Linked DNA regions of Homo sapiens: regions 2 and 3 are each linked to region 1. The links come from fine-mapping of genetic effects on gene expression. A gene starts in region 1. Each other region holds a variant in brackets. All regions are shown on one strand. Distances are between the middles of the regions.

Region 1 (6,456 bases):
TGTGTCACAGTTGTAAGCATCTTCCCCACTCCAAGAATATTCTTCAATCCATTCATATTTCTTTCTCTTTTTCTATTTTTTTGAGACGGAGTCTCACTCTGTCTCTCAGGCTGGAGTGCAGTGGCATGATCTCAGCTCACTGCAACCTCTGCCTCCCAGGTTCAGGCGATTCTCCTGCCTCAGCCTCCTGAGTAGCTGGGATTACAGGCATCTGCCATCGCACCGGGCTATTTTTGTATTTCTAGTAGAGACACGGTTTCACCATGTTGGCCAGGCTGGTCTCAAACTCCTGGCTTTAGGTGATCCACCCACCTCGGCCTCCCAAAGTGCTAGGATTACAGGTGTGAGCCACCACACCCGGCCCATTCATATTTCATCTTCTTCATTTCTGTATTTTATCCACATGGAAGTTATTTTATTGTAAGGAGAAAAAGGAATACAGATTTACTTTTTCCCCAAACAGCTAGAAGTTTTCCTAACATTTATTGAATAATCCGTCTCTTCTTCTCTGATATGTCATCTTTTTCATATAATAAATTCCCAAATTATATACTAAATTTATTATCTGATTTTGACCTTTCCGCCTTGGTGTCATCATAAGTTATTTTAACTATGTAACTTTACAATGCATTTTTAAAAATATTTTATTATTTTTGACATCCTCTGGCTTTTCTAGCATGTTAATTTTGCCAGATAAACTTAAAAACTTTCCTAAAATTTTCCTTGCTATCTTGACCTTCTGTGTTTTGGTTTGACTCATATATGTTACTGTGTTGTGAAGGCTTAATTTTTACTTACCCAGATAGATGCCATGATATCCCACCTTTGCCTTGAGCTGAGATCACACTAATCTATTAAAAGAAAACAATTAGTAAATGGTATCAATATGTGATTCAGAACACAATAATCTTAGTCCAACCCTTAATCTTGAATCCAGAAAACAGATGTCAACATTCACAGAAAAACCTTCTCAGGAAGAGCATATATCTGACATTGGGTATCCCATTTGCTAAACAAACATTTACTGAGCATCTACCATATGCAAGGGACTGTGCTAGACCTGTGAGGACTTCAAGACAAGAGACAGAAAAAAATCTTTGTACTTAAGATGCTTACAAATATACTTCCTGAAAAGCCAATTTTTGACTTATTTAAAGTCCAGGAGAACTCTGCTGATTACTGACAGGCTACCACTACGGGGATCAATAACAACAAAAACACAGGATTTTACTCCTCCTCACCAAATCAACACAAAGTTTAGCTGCCTTCAGTTGGATTCCTTGTGCTTGATTGTGAAACTCCATGTACATTTTACAAGGCTCCAAGCCTACAGTCTGTTATAAAGACACATCTGCTCTTTGAGGAGGTGGTCCAGTCCTTGGTGGGGTGCAGAGGTGAAAGGCACAGTTCTTTGATTGGGAAGCCAGACACATTTTTCTTAAATAGATATTATTCAAACATGCTGGCATATCTCCAGGGTTGATTTAGAAATGCAAGTTGCTCCCACCCTTCCTGGGAACAAAATATTCTAAAAATTCCCTGACACCCCCAGAGAAAAGTTCAATGGGAAATTACACTATTAGTCTCTGGAAATATTTCACCTTGGTTTTTTCAGGCTCTCTGTAGCCTAGGGCAGTCAACTCTCCAGTTAGAGTCTAATACTGCATCTCTCTAAATACATGCTCTTTGACTTATGAGGGGTTACAGCCAGATAAACTATTCTGAAGTCTAAAAATCAGAAGTCAAACCATCTGTACAGTGAAAACAAGGCATTATTGGTTCTCATTTTGCCTCTTAAAGCTAAACACAATTTCTTTGGGCCTCAATTTCCTCATCTGTAAAAAGTGAAGAAGGGGGTGTTGCCAGCATTGAACGAGGTCAGTTTCACAGGGCTGGAGATTCTTCTTATCTGTGTGCACTGGTGCACGGTAGATATTTAAAAAAAAAACTTATTGATTAAATGAATGATTTAATACAAGCCGCACAATCATCCAGTGAGTTAGGTATTACATCTTCGTTTTGCATATGAAGAAGCTGGAGCCCAGAGAGGTATGGTAATGTCCCACAGTCACACAGCTAGTGAGTGGACCCCTACTGCATCTAGGCAGCTAGACTCTAAAGGTATGAACCTAACCCCCATGCTTCTGCCTTAATCTGCTGCCTGGCCCACACCTGACCAAATCTGACACTTAATATGCATTGATCCAGCAGAACTGGAAAATTATTAAGAATTATTACTAATCTATCATTTAACTTTTAAGATGTAAAGAATTACTCCACAGCGAAGGCCAAATGACTTAAACAGAATTTCAATATATCCTTTCCTGAAAGGGATTACATCATTTCCTTTTACTTCCTCCTCTACGGTTATTTCTAAACAGGTTTCTCTACACAACCACAGAGTTCTGGGAACAAGATTCTGGTTTTCTTTACATTTAAAAATTCCCTTTCTGGTCAGTCTGAAGTTTTCCGTCTTCGTGAAAACCAAAGGTGGTATCTTCATGGAGTAACGTTTTAATTAGTTACATTTTAAAAAATGATGTTGGTGAACATAGTAAATGTATCTTTCCCGGAGGGCAGGGTCTTGCTGTCAGTGCTGAACACAAATCCTTGGAAAGAATTCGGCCTGGGCTATGCAATTTCGTATCAGTAGCCAGAGGGGCCTCCAGCGACCCAGAACCTCCCAGCACCTGCATACTTTCCTATATATGGTCATCTGCAATCAAGTATCCAAATCTTCCACCTGGTGACTCAAATACCAAGGGAATGATTCATATCTAGTCAATAGGATTCTGTTGCAAAGAAAACGGTTAGTCTTTTCAGGAAAAAGCAAACTTCTTGAACTTCCAACCCTCAATATGCAAATCCACTGTTTTCTACCTTCTAAAAAAAATAAGTAAAATAAAATAAATTGCCTATGTGAGGGGGAGAAGATGCTCACAGGATGGGTGCGATTCCAAGTCCACAGAGCAGACCTCTGAGCCAGCCCCGTCTGCCATGCCGGGGACCCGAGGAACCTTCCGACTCCCAGCTTTTTTCTGTCCCCTAGACCTTTAGGACTGGGGAGGCCGAGATGGCTAAGTGGATCCCTTACGCTGCTAGCTGTAATAAGCGAAGCTTTCAGGGAGCGAGGACAGCTGAGTATCAGCTTGGGCCCCACCAAGACCTGGGTGACCCACCCATGGCACGGCACTTTCCCCCCCGTGGGCCCAGTCTCCTCGACTCTGAAATGCAGGACTGAGGTCCCTCCAGCTCCCCACCCACGCAGCTGGGTTGGGGCCGGGCGCGGGCGCCAGCCGCCAGCCCTGCCCAGGGTCGAGCTGCACTCGCGGGGGAACTGGGCGAGGCGCCGCGACCTCCCCAAGCCACCCGTCAGCAGGCGGCTGTGGGCGAGGCTCGCGGGGACGCGCCGGGAGGCTGAACTTACCCAAAGCGCGGTGGGGGAAACTGGTGTGCGAGTAAACTGCGAACAAACTGCGAGCGAAGGTGTCAGCCGCGGGCGCAGGTGCTCCGCGCTGGCTCCGGGTCCGGATCGCGACCGCACCCCTTCCTCCTGCCCCTCCTCCGGCCTCTCGACTCCACCTGATTGCGGCCCCAGGCCCCGGGAAAGGGAAGCCGCGCCCTGCTGCCGCCGGGCTCTATCCCTGTACACAGGCGCCCCAGCTCTGCTCCCTCACCGGTCTCTAAGCTTCCCCACCCTTTTCTCCCTACGCCCTCATTTCGCTCTCGGTTTCCACTACACCTTTACTTTCTCAAATGTACTGCAATGCTTATTTTGTTCTAGGCAGTGTGGATTCGGAGATTAGACTGTCCCTATACCTAAGGAACTCACTGCGTGGCATAGGTGGCGGACACCTAACATTAATAACATTGATCTGGCATTTACTTTGTACCAGGCACTGTTCTAACTTCTTTAAGAATATGCGCGGATTTATTAGGTTGGTGCAAAAGTAATTGCGGTTTTTGCCATTAAAATGGCTCCGACAACAACTCTATGAGGTAGATACTATTATCCCCATTTTATAGATGAGGAAATTGAGATACAGAGACGTTGGGTAACTTCAGCCAATTTACACAGAAGGTAAATGCCAGAGCTAGTGTTTGGAACCCAACTATTTCAGTAATTCCTCTACTAAACGTGTTGACCCTCTGGTATGAGGATTCCAACCAAAGGCTCAGGGAGACGGTAACCTGGAAGGGCATTCTAGGCATTTGGAAGAGCAAAACAAATCATCGAGGCTAAAAGGTTAAAGCCCTACTCGTATGAGGGAATTATGAGCAGTTGTGTGCTGAAGGATGTAGAAAAAGTTACCATGTATTGAGTATCAGGCATTGAAGTGCTTGAATACCTTACCTCTTTTATCTTCAAGGGAACTCTAGGAGGTGCTATTTTTATCACAATTTGCAGAAGAGAAAACTGAGGCTTAGAAAAGTGAAGTGATTTATCCGAGACCACGTAAGTAAAAAGTATTGCTTGCACTCAGTCATCACTGGGCCCCTTATGTATTCACCCGAAGGATTTGAAAACTTACCTCCACAAACACCTGCACATGGATGTTTATAGTAGCTTTACTCCTAAGTATCAAAAGTCGGAAGCAACCAAGATGTAATTCGTAGGTGAATGGATAAATAAACTGTGATACATCTATACAATAGAATTTTATTCAGCACTGAAAAGAAATTAGCTATCAAGCTATAAAAACACATGGAAGAAACTTAAATGCATATTATTAAGAGAAAGAAGCCCATTTGAAAATGCTACACACTATGATTCCAACTATATGACATTCCAGAAAAGGCAACACTACGGAGACAGTAAAAAAAATCACTGGTTTCTAGGAGTTGAGAGGAGGTAGGGTGAACAGGTGGAGCACAGAGGATTTTTAGAGGATAAGCATGGCTGGAGCTGCTTGAGTGTGAGTTGAAGAGATTACAGTCTTGGTCCTTAAGGCTGAGTCCTGGGACCTAGAAACTCATTAGAAATGCAAATTCCCTGAAACCCTGCGCCATCAAGTGATTCTGATGCATCCTAAAGTTTGAGAACCACTGGTTTAAGAGGAGCTACAACGGAGAAGGCAGAAGTGGTCATGCTTAAAAGGCCAGTGCCCTGGGAGCCCTCTCAGATCTACAAATCCGAAGTGATGGGCTTTCTGCAAGAGAGAAGATAGGATGGTGTTCTGCATTCTGTTCTGCATAGTAATTCCTGACTCCCATTCAGACTTCACCACAATAAACTGTTAAATCCCATGTTACCTCAAAAAATTCTGAGATTAGCATGAAATGGGGGAAAATATTTATTATTATTTGTGCCAGACACTGGGTAATGCACTTGACGTACGTGATCTATGTCATGCTTACCAACTAGCTGTAAATTAGGTATGATTGCCTCTATTTTGCAGATACAGACACAGGCTCAGAGGGACTCAGTAAGTTCTACGAGTTGTATTCCAGGCAACTAGGAAGTCATAGGGCTAGATTTATAGCCAGAAGAAAATGAGTAACAGGTGATGTTTTACATGTAGGCTTTATTTTAATTGTTTAAACCATTCAGGATTTAACTTCTTTGATTTCCTGATGGTAACTTTAACAAATGCACTTTTATCATTTTTTGAGTTTTTCTAGTTGTATCAACAGCCCAATTACCACCATTTATATTAGAAACATGCTATGGCATATTATAAAACTATTTTTTCCCCAAAGGATGAGTTTTCTTGGAAGGAAATATTAGAGGATGCTGTTAGAATCCAGGTTTATGGTTATCCAGAAAAAGAATTCAGAAAAGGTTATTTAATAAAAGTTTCATTATTCTGAATACACAGAACTTTACAGGTTAGTAAAAAGGGAATTTTCCTATAGCATCCTGATCAAAAGAACAATTTAACAGCCAAATACAAATTTTTAAAGCAAAGTTATTGAGATATATTTAGAACATATGGTAAAATGTGAAGGAAAGACCGACTACGTGATTGTGGCTGTTGAATACATAGCTGCTGTTACAGTGATGTGTTGGAGCTGGGTTATACCAGCATGTGAAAGCCAGTTCCTGAATTTTCAGTTATTTCACAGCCAGTATTAATGTAGACATTATTACAAGTTAAATAAATACAATTGAATAAATTACGTTAAAAGCAAAGGTAATAGGTACTCAAAATTAACCACTTCCTAATTATTTCACATTTTATTATTATTTTTTTTATTATTTATTTATTTATTTATTTATTTATTTATTTATTTTTTAATTGATCATTCTTGGGTGTTTCTCGCAGAGGGGGATTTGGCAGGGTCACAGGACAATAGTGGAGGGAAGGTCAGCAGATAAACAAGTGAACAAAGGTCTCTGGTTTTCCTAGGCAGAGGACCCTGCGGCCTTCCGCAGTGTTTGTGTCCCTGGGTACTTGAGATTAGGGAGTGGTGATGACTCTTAAGGAGCATGCTGCCTTCAAGCCTCTGTTTAAC
Region 2 (6,456 bases), 49 kb before region 1:
GGGCAATAAAGAACGCCACGTTCAAGGATACGTAAGTTAACAAAGAGGGATAAAAAGAAATGTGTCTGGAAAGGCCAGACCTTGTTAACCATGAAATGAAATTCTGACTTTATCCTAAGTGTGGAGAGCTCTTGTAATATTTTAAACATGAGAATGTTGAGATCAGATCAAATTCGTGGTTTCAGAAAATCACTTTGACTGCAGCATGAGAAACAGATTGCAAGGTAGGAGTAGAAGGAAGATAAGGGAGTTAAGACTAGAGGCTTTGAGACTCATCTTGAGGAGACTGAGTAATTAAGAGATGATGATGGCCATCCTTAGAATAAAGGCAGTAGGGATGGAGAAAATGGGAAGATTTGAGAGTTGCTTATGTAAATGGATTGACAAAACATAATGATGTATCGCTACAGGATAATGAAAAAGAGAGATAGTGTAAAATTTCTAGCTGAGCAGTTAGGTGGATTTTGACCTAATGATGGCCAACATACTAAATGATATTCCATTCATCTATGTAATTCATCCAGCAAATGCTTATGAGCGTCGACTATAGCCAGGCATTATTCCATGTGCTGTGCCAATGGCGGTGAACAGAACAGATTATATCTCTGTCTGCATGGAGCTTATGTTCTAGTAGATGGAGACAGACAGCAAAGCAAATTAACTATTGCTTAAGTAAATAGTGATCAGAAATATGAAGAAAAGAAAGCTGGAAATGGCATGGAGAGTGACTGAAAGGGAACCAATTGGCCTGGTACAGTTAGGGGAGACCTCTCTCAGGAGGAGAGCTGAAACCTGAAAGATGAGAAGGAGTCAGCTAGGTAAAGATCTAGAGGATGAGCATTCCAGAGAAGGAATGGATGCAAAGACTGTGATGTGAGAATAGACTTGCCACAGTTGAGGAATGGAAAGAAGCCTGGGGTGGCTGAGGCATAGTCAAGAAGTCTGGGGAGGAATGGTACGACTTCAGAGAGTTGGGCAAATTCCTGTTGGGGCCATTCTCTGGGATGACTGAACAGGGGAAGGGGAGCAGATGTGGGGCTGGGCGAGATGAAGGAAAGGATGTGTTCACTTAGGATATGACTTTGAAGGTACGTGTGGGACCACAGAAAATGGCTGGTAAAGAGATGGAGGTAAGCATCTTCTGTGCACAAGGCCCTAGGGTCTGAGGATAAACAGGAGTCTGTACTCATGGAGCGCACCATCTGGCAGTAAAGACAGACAAGCAAACACAGGGTTACGGCATCATTAAAGGCTGCCAACTCAGCTTGGTTTATTTTAAGCAAGGCAGTTTGAGAGGCCACAGGATCTACTGGGTCTCAAGCTTGAGGTTTGGCATTCTAAAACAAGTTTTACTGCCTGCACTTACTGTGAAGCAGTGAAAATAATGTGGTCAATACTTCTCTGTACCTATCTCTATATGGGTTAGAATACTATTAACCTATGAGGCAAATCAGTAGACAAATTAGCTACTGTAGAAAACTAATCTAAGTGGAAAAGAAATATGACATTCTATCAACATTAAGCCATATTTTTACCTTCTCATTTTCTTTTTTTTTTTTTTTTTTTGAGACAGAGTCTCACTCTGTCGCCCAGACTGGAGTGCAGTGGCGCAATCTAGGCTCACTGCAACCTCTGCCTCCTGGGTTCAAGCAATTCTCTGCCTCAGCCTCGCGAGTAGCTGGGATTACAGTGCATCTGCTACCACGCCCGGCTAATTTTTGTATTTTTAGTAGAGACAGGGTTTCACCGTCTGGCCAGGCTGGTCTTGAACTCCTGACCTTGTGATCCACCCGCCTGGGCCTCCTAAAATGCTGGGATTACAGGCGTGAGCCACCGCGCCTGGCCTGCCTTCTCATTTTCTATTTAAAATAGAGGATGAACTTTTAAAATTTAATATTATACATGAATTTTCATCTTTCATACAAGTGGAATATTAGCATCTACTTAAACTCATCATATTAGAGAAAATGAGAATGTTTTAGTTAAATAGAAATCAAATTATACCTACTTAGAAAAAAATTATTTCATAAACCCAGGTCTGTTTATTTTGAAGAGAAAATCAGGTGTCTGTGTAAAGAGTGTATTGTATCATACCTTGATTTGCTGTAATATAATTTATCTTAAAATGTTTAAATTACATTAAAATAACTAATTTTTAAATATTTGTTCTACTATTTGCATACTTTCCCAAGGGAATTAAGGGACGCTAAGAATGCACATGAACTTTCCAGACCAACCTTCAAGGCTCGATGCAGTCTTTCGGCTAAAAAGGCCGGCGTGTTCCTCACACAATTAACTGTAACAAAAAGCAAATAATGTTCAGCTTCACGGAATAGAAATTGGGTTAATCTATAGTAAGTAATATGTTTTTTAAAAAGATTCTTTGGACTGTCATACCACTCTATCCCCTCCCCACAACTGGCTTTTACTTGGAATGAAAGAAAGGCTGCTTACCCTGATTTTCATAGCCTTTTAATACCATATTTGCACAGAACTTTAGCACAGTAATTATCTCCAGCCATGGGGAAAATAAAATTACCTGCCAAAGAAACTCCCACAGCGACTGACTCATCTCTGGATCCCAGACACCCCGAACACCTACGCTTTCCCTGATAACTCCCTAGGGTGCGACACTGCTCAGCTACTAGCATCTCGGGCTACTGATGAACAACCTGGGCCTGACAACTGCAGCGATGTTGCTCCAAATAACTCATTAGGCACGCAGGGGCACTGGAGTTCCATTTAAAAGCAATTTTTCCCATGGAAAGAATTTTCTTTTAAATGACTGGATTAGAATTTATAGGCTGGTTAGAGTGACTCCATTAGAACAAGTATCTGTCATCTAAATTCAGTTGCCTTAAAAAAAAAATACAATCCTTCAATTCTTTATTTTGAAATAACAAGTAAAGCAGAAATAAAACAAGAAAAAGGAAACTGACAAAAACGCAAGAGTAAATTATCTTTTAAATAAAAAGAAAATAGGAATAGAAAAGTCTGTAGGGAAGAAACCTATTTACAGCAACACAATTATTTTTATAATCTTAAATCTGATCTCTAGGTAGGAATCCAACCAAAAGTGAATGGATTTTATAATGAATTTTGGAGCTCAGAACAAGAATAAGTGACTTTCTCATCGTGGCTTATAGACTGTCTTAAGGAAAGCTAAAAGACTTTTGGCTTTTTGAGTGATTTAAGGGAAATAGAAGGAGAAATGTATTAGAAACCCAAACACAGCATTTAGAATCAAACTGTTACATGAAGTTCTCTGACAAGAAACTAACCATTTAAACTAGTAAAACTCACATTAAGTAAGCCATAATAGCTTGATAAAAAATAATGATGCCCACTTTCATCCTATTAAGCTTTCCAGTCACCTCCCTGCCAACTAGATTTGTACAATCCCTTCTTTTCATGATCCTTTCTTCCCTTTAGCTTGCCTTCTGCTTTATATTCTTACCTACTAGATTTGTTCTTCATATCTGAAAGTTTTGGAAGGTGGCAGTATGTTTCAGTGGGAAGGAGGCTTTATCA[C/T]CCAGCACCATAGGCAGGGAAGCTTGGGAGTCCGTTAGAGTTAATTACCATGACCAAGAATTCATAATTGCCCATTCCCTACCCTCTTCATTGTCTTGACCACACTTCCATCAGGCCTCTCTCCTCCCACAGGTTCCTGAACTCTGGCTTGTCCCCAGTCCTGGGCAAGCCCTAAAATGCAGAACATGCCTCTGTTGCAGCTTATCTTGAGAGTCCAGCTGTCCACTGCCAGACGTGTTTCCTGTCAATCCCCAGTGATCATGCCCTTGTGCTTGCCCAACATTAAAAGTTGCTGCTAAGACTTTTCTGTTGGATTTTGAAACTTTTGCACATTTTTCCCCATCTTTTAGAGATGGGATCTCACTTTTGTCACTCAGGCTCTGGTGTAGTGGCACCAACATAGCTCACTGGAGCCTCGACCTCCTGGGTTCAAGCACTCCTCCCACCTTAGCCCCTTGAGTAGCTGGGACTACAGGCGTCCACCAACCTACCCAGCTAATTTTTTATTTTTTTGTAGAATCTTTAATATATAGATTAACAATATAAAATGGAAAAAAAATTAACCAGTTCTATCATTGCCATTGGAACAGTCTCAGAATGCTGCTCTCACTATGTTGCCCAGGCTGGTCTTGAACTCCTGGCCTAAAGGGATCCTCCTGCCTCAGCCTCTCAAAGTGATGGGATTATGTGCATGAGCCACCACACCCAGCCCAGTCTTTCAGGTTTCTGAAATCAACATGTTCTCTCTATTGAAATAGTTCTACTGAATAAAGCCTCTCCTTACTTAAGTCTGGATTTGTTCTTATTTGGCAAGTAGTATGCTCCTATTACACGATTCTAAGATGACACAGCTCAGATCGTTTTTCATGTCAAAAACTATGTGTTGACCATTGTATTGGATTCCTTGTGTATGAAATATGCAGAGTAGGCAAATCTATAGAGACAGAAAGTAGATTAATGATTATAGGAGCCAGGGGGTGGGGAGGATTGGAAAGTGACTGTCAATAGTTACAGGGTTTCTTATGCGGCTGATTAAAACGTCCTAAACTTAGATTGTGGTGATGGTTGCAAAACCTTGTGACTACATTAAAAAGCATTGAATTGCACACTTTGAGTGGGTGAACTTTATGGTATGTAAGTTATATCTCAATAAAAAATTTTATAAACTGGTTTATTCCAATGGTAGACTGAAACAAAATGAAAGTGTAACATATTTTGAACTTCAATTGAATTATAAGGTCTTTTTTTACATGATAAAATAATGTGCATTATAGCCCAAATGTAATACATTATTCAATGATATATTTCCAAGAATGCTCCTTAGCTCAGTGAATGAGAGTTTGTACATCTCAACAAAGTTTTTCAAACATTACGGCTTAGCAAGAACACCAAATGAAAAACAGCAAGCAGAATTAATATAAAGATTAACAATATAGGCCAGGGGTGGTGGCTCAAGCCTGTAATCCCAGCACTTTGGGAGGCAGAGGTGGGCGGATCACTTGAGGTCAGGAATTTGAGACCACCCCGGCCAACATGGTGAAACCCTGTCTCTACTAAAAATACAAACGTTAGCCAGGCGTGGTGGCGTGTGCCTGTAATCCCAGCTACTTAGGAGGCTGAGGCACAAGAATTGCTTGAACCTGGAAGGCGGAGGTTGCAGTGACCTGAGATTGCGCCACCACACTCCAGCTTGGGCAACCGAGCGAGACTCCGTCACAAAGAAAAAAAAAGAAAAAAAGATTAACAATGTAAAATGGAAAAAAAAATTAACCAGGTGTATCATTACCACTGGAACAGTCTGAGAACTAATTATGAAGACTGATCTCAATTCTACTTTTTTAATTGAAGAAGAAAGTTTTCCCTTTCTTAGCCTCCTCGGCTTATCTTTTAGCAATTCAGAGTCAACAATGAGCTGAGATTGTGCCACTGCACTCTAGTCTGGGTGACAGAGTGAGACTCCATCTCAAAAGAAAAAAAAAAAAGAAAGAAAGAAAAGAAAAGCCACTGATATCTTTCATAAATAACCAAATATGGTGGATTACCAAACTGGCTTAGGTCTTAGTTGCATGTGTGTGTGTGTGTGTGTGTGTGTGTGGTTTTTTTAATTAAAGAGACAAGATCTTGCTATGTTGCCCAAACTGGCCTTGAACTCCTTGGCTCCAGCAATCCTTCCACCTCAGCCTCCCAAGTAGGTAAGACTACACGTGCATGCCACTGTGCTTTGCCTACGTCTCAGTTTTCAACAAAGCTCAATAAAAATGCCAGTAGAAATAAAATATTTCAGCTCTCAAGAAGTCTACAAGCTAAACATGGTCACAAGACAAATACAAATTTAAAAAGCAAGGTAAGATTTAAAAAGATGGCTGGATGTGGTAGCTCACACCTGTAATCCCAACACTTTGGGAGGCTGAGGTGGATGGATTGCTTGAGCTCAGGAGTTCACGACCAGCCTGGGCAACATGGTGAAACCCCATCTCTACAAAAAATACAAAATTAGCTGGGCCAGGTGGTATACATGCTTGTTGTCTCAGCTACTTGGGAGGCTGAGGTGGGAGGACTGCTTGAGCCCAGGAGGTTGAGGCTGCAGTGAGCTGAGATCACACCACTGCACTCCAGCCTGGGTGACAGAGTGAGATCCTGTTTCAAAAAAGAAAAAGAAAAAAGACTTAAAAAAATAACTTCTTCAAGCATTCATTTAACAATATTTGTTGAGCGTACTGTGTGTATCCTGGACCATGTTGGGGGCTGTAGGGAGCAAAAAAAATGGATCAGTCAGGATTCTTGCCCAAAAGGAGCAGGCCTCGGCACTGAGTTAAAGCAAGTGCAAAGTAACTTAGTTTACCAGCACTCGAAGTCTTACCTATGGCCAACAGTAAGTCTTCAAAATGCCCAGATAATTCTCCTTTTATGCTGTCCACAATGTCC
Region 3 (6,456 bases), 68 kb before region 1:
CTTCATACATATATAGTATGTATTATATATGTATTTATTATATATATAGAGAGAAATACACACACGCACACACATATATATATAGCAAGAGAGAGAGACAGAGATTTATTTTAGGAATTGGCTCACGTTATTGTACAGGCAGGCAAGTCCAAAATCTTCAGAGTGAGCTGGTCACCTGGAGCCCCAGGGAAGAGTTGGTATTGCTGGTCAAGTCTAAAGGCAGTCTGCTGGCAAAATTCTCTCTGCCTAATGGGAAGGAGAGGGAGTCTTTATCTGTTAAGGCCTCCAGCTGATCAGATGAGAGCCACCCACATTATGGAAGATAATCTGCTTTACTCAAAGTCTACTGATTTAAATGGCAATCTCATTTAAAAAATATTCTCACAGACACAATTAGAATAATATTTAAACAAATACTGTGGTCTAGCCAATTTGACACAGAAAATTAACCATCACAGTCCCCATTCACATGGATCCTCTTTCTTCTGCCGTCTGGCCTGAAAGATGCTCTCCTGTGAAATCACTGTTCTCCCAACTGTTTTCAGCATGATAGCCTTATCTTCTCTGCTCAAGTCAGCGGGTGAGGTGGAGCGGCCAGCTCTTTCCTCCCTCCAGTGTGCTTTCTCACCCTTGAACTACCCTCACCCACTCTCACCCTCTGCCCAGTTGAAGACTGTGCAGTTCTCAATGCTGTGACTCACCAGATTCCATCCTCACTTCCCAAGCTTACTTCAGCAGCGGACTCAGTCCTGCTCCTCTGCCCTGCCCTTTGCCATAATCTATATTGACTCTGGAATCCACATTAACCTTTTAGATTCCTTTACCCCAGAGGTATTTCCTGGGTTGAAGACCTCCACCTTTGACCTGCCTTAGTCAGTGTCGTTAACACTCAGGGTAATCTCTGTTTCTGAGATCTATTATCCCATTTGCAGCCACAGCCTGTCATCTCCTTCACCCCACCCAGGAAGCCCATCTCTAGCTTCCCTGGAACCTCTCCTGCGTCACATGATCTATCCCATTTCATTCACTAATTCTATTTGCCTTCACTGCTTCCTGCCTTGCTTACTAGAATCATAGACTCCCTGTGTGCCCCTAAATTCTGGACTTCACTTCCAAAGAACCCATGGAAATAAATGTAAAGTAGTAATAAGGTGGCAATGTGGTAGATAAAATTAGATGGGATTTCCTCCTCCTCTTCTTATTGCTCCTATTCTTCATCTTCCTCTCATTCGTTTTCGTTTGTGTTTCCAGGTAACTGTGCTTTGAAGAAAGAGGTGGAACTTTGAAGCTGTGGCTCATTTCCTTCCCAGAGCCATCTAACTTGAGCCACCCCAGTGCTCCTCCTACCTCTCCATTTCACTTCCAAAACACTTGGTGACTCCCTAGCACGCCAACACAGAGAATCACTGTTCTAGAGGATTTCTACCCTAAAAGCCTCCGTTTTCTTCTCTCAACTCCTCCACCCTGTAACCCCACAAAGTTACACACAGTTACACCTCCTACTTTATAGTGACTACTGAAAATAGTCCTTCCTATTTTGGGATGTGTCCCTCCAGAAACAGATGCTGAGAAAAGGATCCAGGGATCCCAGGAAGCACTGGGAAGTGAGTGCAGAAGTGAGACAGAAAAAGAAAGAAAGCCGGTACAGGGTGTGTTGTGAGTCAGTTGTCACTGCGGGCAGCTGGGGCTCAGACTTCCTGGGGGTCTCAGGGGCAGCATAGATCATGCCTCAGAGTTGTCTCACTTGGGAGGCAAGAGCCTGTGGTATTTATCCATGGCCTCCATCTGTCACTGGTTGAGAGCCACCCCAGGGGTGTTACTCCCTGACACTTCTGTTCTGACCCAAGTGTGGTCAGCTCCCACAGACAGATAAAGGCTGCAGCAGGGTCACCGGCACTTGCAGTAAGGAGAGTCAGAACGTAGGAAATGCTGAGTGTCAGGGACATCTATGGAGCACCAAGAACCTTCTATGTTTCCTATCTAACTAGCTTTACTGTAAATGTAACTATCCCTGTTTCTAGCTTCCTATCCTTTTATTCATTGTCTTAGGTATTCTTGGATGTATCATTTTAATTTAATCTTCTTGACCATAGAAGTTGGCATTATCTCAATTTTATAGAAGAAGAAACTGAGAAATTAAGAGTAAGCAACTTCACAAAAATTACCAAGCTAGTAAGTTCTGGAACTGTTATTTAAAGTCTCAAAAATCCAAGTATTTTCTAGTGGAGCAGAAATGCAAGGGCAGAACCTTGGGACCACCCATCATTATTAGCAATGTCCTGGGTAATAAGAGATGGGTTCAGAGTAGAAATAGAGGGGTTATGTCAGAGAAGGGAAAAAACTCTTCATCTAAGACTGGTTTTGACCCTGTTCCCTGATTCAATTACTATTGACACAGCACACTAAAGCTTAGTAGGCCAGAATCTTACTGTTTCTCCCAGAGGCCCTTATATAATTTCTAAGAACAAAGATCAGATAAAATGCAATTTGCAGAATAAGTGATGTCTGGCATATAATAAGTACTCAATTTAATTTAACAATTATGTATTGATAATCTAATATGTGCCAGGCGTTGGACTAGATGCTAAGAATGATGGTGGACCACAAATATTGACTGACAGAGGCAGGAGTTCGCTTTTGAATATGAAATATATACCCCACATTCTCAAACTAACTAATTATACATAACCATCAACTAACAATGGCCACTTTCACAGTTAAGACGAACCTAGTACTCAATAGTTTTCTCAGATCTGCCTTGACTTATTTTCATTTAACATTTAACAACAGCAGATAATGTTGACGTGAAAAGAGCACACTAAACATAGGATTGCTGTGAGGATTAAATGAAATAAGTGCCAAATCCCAGGCATTTAATATAATTGATCATTCTTATCTTTATTATAGACTGTAAGTTCCATGAAAACAGGCACTGAATTTTTTTTTCTTTTTTTTGAGATGGAGTCTCGCTCTGTCACCCAGGCTAGAGTGCAGTGGCATTATCTAGGCTCACTGCAACCTCTGCCTCCCAGGTTCAAGCAATTCTCCTGCCTCAGCCTCTTGAGTAGCTGGGATTACTAGTGTGCGCCACCATGCCCGGCTAATTTTTGTATTTTTAGTAGAGACTGGGTTTCACCATGTTGGTCAGGCTGGTCACGAACTCTTGACTTCAAGTGATTCATCCGCCTCGGCCTCCCAAAGTGCTGAGATTACAGGCTTGAGCCACCGCGCCCAGCCGAACAGGTAGTAAATTTTTACATGTATATGCAGCTTTTAGAGTAGTGTTTAGTACACAGTAGGCTTTCAGTTCACATTGATAGGCTAAATGAGTAATATGGATATTATTACTCCAATTTCTCAGATGAAATTAATACTCAGAGAGATTGAATAAGCTGCTCACTTTCTCAAAGCTAGTTGCTGTAAGAGTTAGGATAAATGACCTATTTCTTTTTTTTTTATCCTATGTACAGTCATTCCTAATAAATAACGTACTTCTAACTCCACTGTGCCCTAAGGGCTTCTCTAAAGCATGTAGCGTGACGCTGAGCACACAGTAGTTCTTCAACAGTTGCCACTATTGCTGTGTGTCACC[G/C]GTCAGCGGTGTGTTATTAGTTCATTACTGTCTTATGATAAACTTCTCCATTGGCTTGCAGGTACAGAGAGCAACTCTGCTGCTTCTCCTCCGGAGTGCGGCATCATCTTCCTGCTCTTCCTTCCATTTGCTCTGTTGGCTCCTACTCCCCTTCCACTGAAGTAACTGTAGCTTTCCCCAGGGCTTAGGCCCAGGCCCTACTGAACCTCTATTTCTGTGTGTTTGTCTGCACGTCTGCAATCACTTCAACTCAAACTGCACCCACCAACGACATGACCCTTAGAAGCTGCCAAATCCTCGTTGCTGAATGGTTTCAGTACTGCTACTGCTGGAGAAAAAGAAGAAAAATTCACATCCTTCCCCCCAAAAAAGAAAGGGGGAAACATGGAACCAGGGAAATTCTGTAAGTAATGGTGAACTGTTTATTCAGGGCTCCAACTCTGCCCTTGCACATGTGCCCCGCTGTGGCACAGTCTATAGTTTTGAACTTCGGATAGTACAGTGCTCAGCAAGTGAAGATATTACCTTCTGGTCTGAGAGCCTCCTGACCAGTCTTGTCAGATTGAAAGATACTGACTTGGCTCTATCAAGGTGGCTTCTGTCCTGTACTAGATGACTTTATATTATTGATATGTAAGCTTCTGAGAGACTTATTTAGACTTCAGTATTACTGACCGTTAGATGCCAGTGATGTGTGGTGAAGTTGCTCAGTGTGTGAAGTCAGAGAATTTATGAGACACCCAAGTGTTCAGACCTACCTCCCAACCCCAGAGCCCAAGAAACGGGCCTCTAAAGTAAAGAGCTTTGTAACTGTTGCTACTGCTGTATCATGGTCCCAGCGTGAGAGAGTCAAGCGTATAGATTTTGGATCTACTGTATAGAAATCTCAGTTTGTTTTGTGGCTCCAGAACTATATCTAGAGTGGTCTTAACGTTTCTGAGCCTCTTTCCAGACTAGTAAATTGAGATAAGGTTACCTGCCTCATGGTGTTGTTATAAAGTCAAAATGAGACAAAATATATGAATTGCTCATAGTGAGTGTTAAGAAATGGTGCTTATTATTATTGAAACAAGAGGACCTCTGAAAGAATGCAAGTCAATGCCTACTGGCTCTTCAGGTCGGTTGGCTGAGAAGAGCATGTGAGGTTATAAAGCCACAGTCCAAAGGGAGCTGAATTCTCTCTGCCTGCACAGAGAGGTCAAGAATGTGGTGCAGTTGGTTAAGTTGTGAAAGTTCCACATGATTATACAGAATTTGCAGTCCTTTGTCAATTTTCCCATAATGACTAAGTCTTTCAAAATAAAAAAGACCTTATGCATATACTTGATAACAGCAAAAGAGACTGGGAAATTGGGGAAAGATGTAAATAATAGCCAATGACTACATATTTCAGATATTGTGCTAATTCCTTTACTTGTGTTTCCTCATCTAATTCCTTGTATCTTCCATGACAGATCTAAGCATTCCATCCTTCCTGGCACCTGGGTCTTCCTGGCACTATGAATTGATAAATTATTACTCCTATCTTAGAAACAAAAGGAAATGATGGATCAGCGAGGCTAAGTAATTTGCCGAAAGTTACACGGCAAGTTGGTGGTACTGAAACCAACATTGTATGGCTCTGGCATCTTTCCTTCACATCTAGGAAAGGGAAGGCCAGGGGGCCTGTTTTTCCTGAAGAAAGAAGACAGGACCATCACACTGAGGAAGCCAAGAAAAGCAGTGCAGGAAAAGCCGGGCAAGTGCAGTGTTCCCAGAGACGTAACCAGAGAAAGATCTGTGAAGTTTCCTCACAGGGACTTTCTCTGGGTGGATTCTAGATTCTGGGAAGCCGTGGGCCTCCCAAGAAGTTTTTGGCAGCACCTGGTCCAGCCAAACTACATATTCAATACCCAGAAGAGAGAGAGAGGAGAAAATCAAGAATGGACAGTTTGTTGCCTGGTGGCCAGGGAAGGTCCCCATATTGAAATAATTCAAAGTAGACTTAACAGTGCAAAGGCTTCTTTTTCATGTCAACAGTGCTGAGGTTAGCCAGAAATTAAAGCAGAGGAGGTTAGGAAGAGACAGGAGGTAGAGAGAGGAAGGAAGTGCTTTTCTCCCCACCACCGTCTTCTCTCTAGAAACATGTTTGAATAAATTGGAGACATTCTCCAGTCATTGCTGCCTAATGGAGTTTTCCATTGACAGAAGGCTCAGGTGTGGGCTGGTTACACAGAGGATCTGAAATAACACTCAGGGGCCCTGTGCTTTTTGGTCCTACCTCCTTGGAGTCCTGAAGACTGAGGTGAGGCACAGGAAGAATTGGAAAAGACGCATGTCTATCCATACCACTCACTTCCTAGGAAAGAGTCAGCTCTGAGTGTACACAGGATGGGTCTTACATGGCTCCAATCCATGGCAGGGTGGTCTACTTGGCCCTCTTATTACCTGTCAGTATCTGGGAAAGCAGGCAATAGAATTAGCATCTATTCTGTAAGCTCCAGCATGGAGAAGACTTAAACTGATCTCTAGTTATCTTCAATAGATAGGATACCGTAATAAGATTTCTGAAATCAGAGAAAGAGAGAAACAGAGAAGCCAGACTTTCCATTAGATACTTCAGAAACAAGAGGAACACACACAAAAAATAAGGATGGACTCTGATATTCAGTGCCCAGTGATGGCCTCTTCACTGAGGATTAGTAGCCCACTCGGCTGGGTGTGGTGGCTCACACTTGTAATCTTAGCACTTGGGGAGGCCGAGGAGTTCGAGACCAGCCTGGGCAACACAGTGAGACCTTGTTGCTATTTTTTAAAAAAAGAAAGAAACAGAAAAGGATTAACAGCTCACTTAACTCATGTACTATTTGATACATTATTTTCCA

Evidence for each region.
Region 2: its variant is fine-mapped to the expression of ANXA3 in blood mononuclear cells (TOPMed, PIP above 0.99). The same link has a PIP of 0.9 or more in whole blood.
Region 3: its variant is fine-mapped to the expression of ANXA3 in tibial nerve (GTEx, PIP 0.95).

What each region holds. Positions count from the first base shown.
Region 1 is chr4:78,548,831-78,555,286 of GRCh38, reverse strand. ANXA3 (annexin A3) reads right to left here and starts at 3,517. Exons shown (of 13, transcript NM_005139.3): 1 at 3,428-3,517; 2 at 799-851. The coding sequence starts at 813. RefSeq lists enhancers at 1,898-3,097, 2,401-3,152.
Region 2 is chr4:78,597,350-78,603,805 of GRCh38, reverse strand. ANXA3 (annexin A3) reads right to left here. Exons shown (of 13, transcript NM_005139.3): 10 at 6,392-6,456; 11 at 2,238-2,296. Among named protein-coding and RNA genes, the nearest start is that of LINC01094, 45 kb to the left of the region's middle. The variant C/T (reference allele first, on the strand shown) is at 3,532.
Region 3 is chr4:78,616,964-78,623,419 of GRCh38, reverse strand. LOC124900721 (a long non-coding RNA gene) reads right to left here. Exons shown (of 2, transcript XR_007058152.1): 1 at 5,853-6,456; 2 at 79-246. Among named protein-coding and RNA genes, the nearest start is that of LINC01094, 26 kb to the left of the region's middle. The variant G/C (reference allele first, on the strand shown) is at 3,593.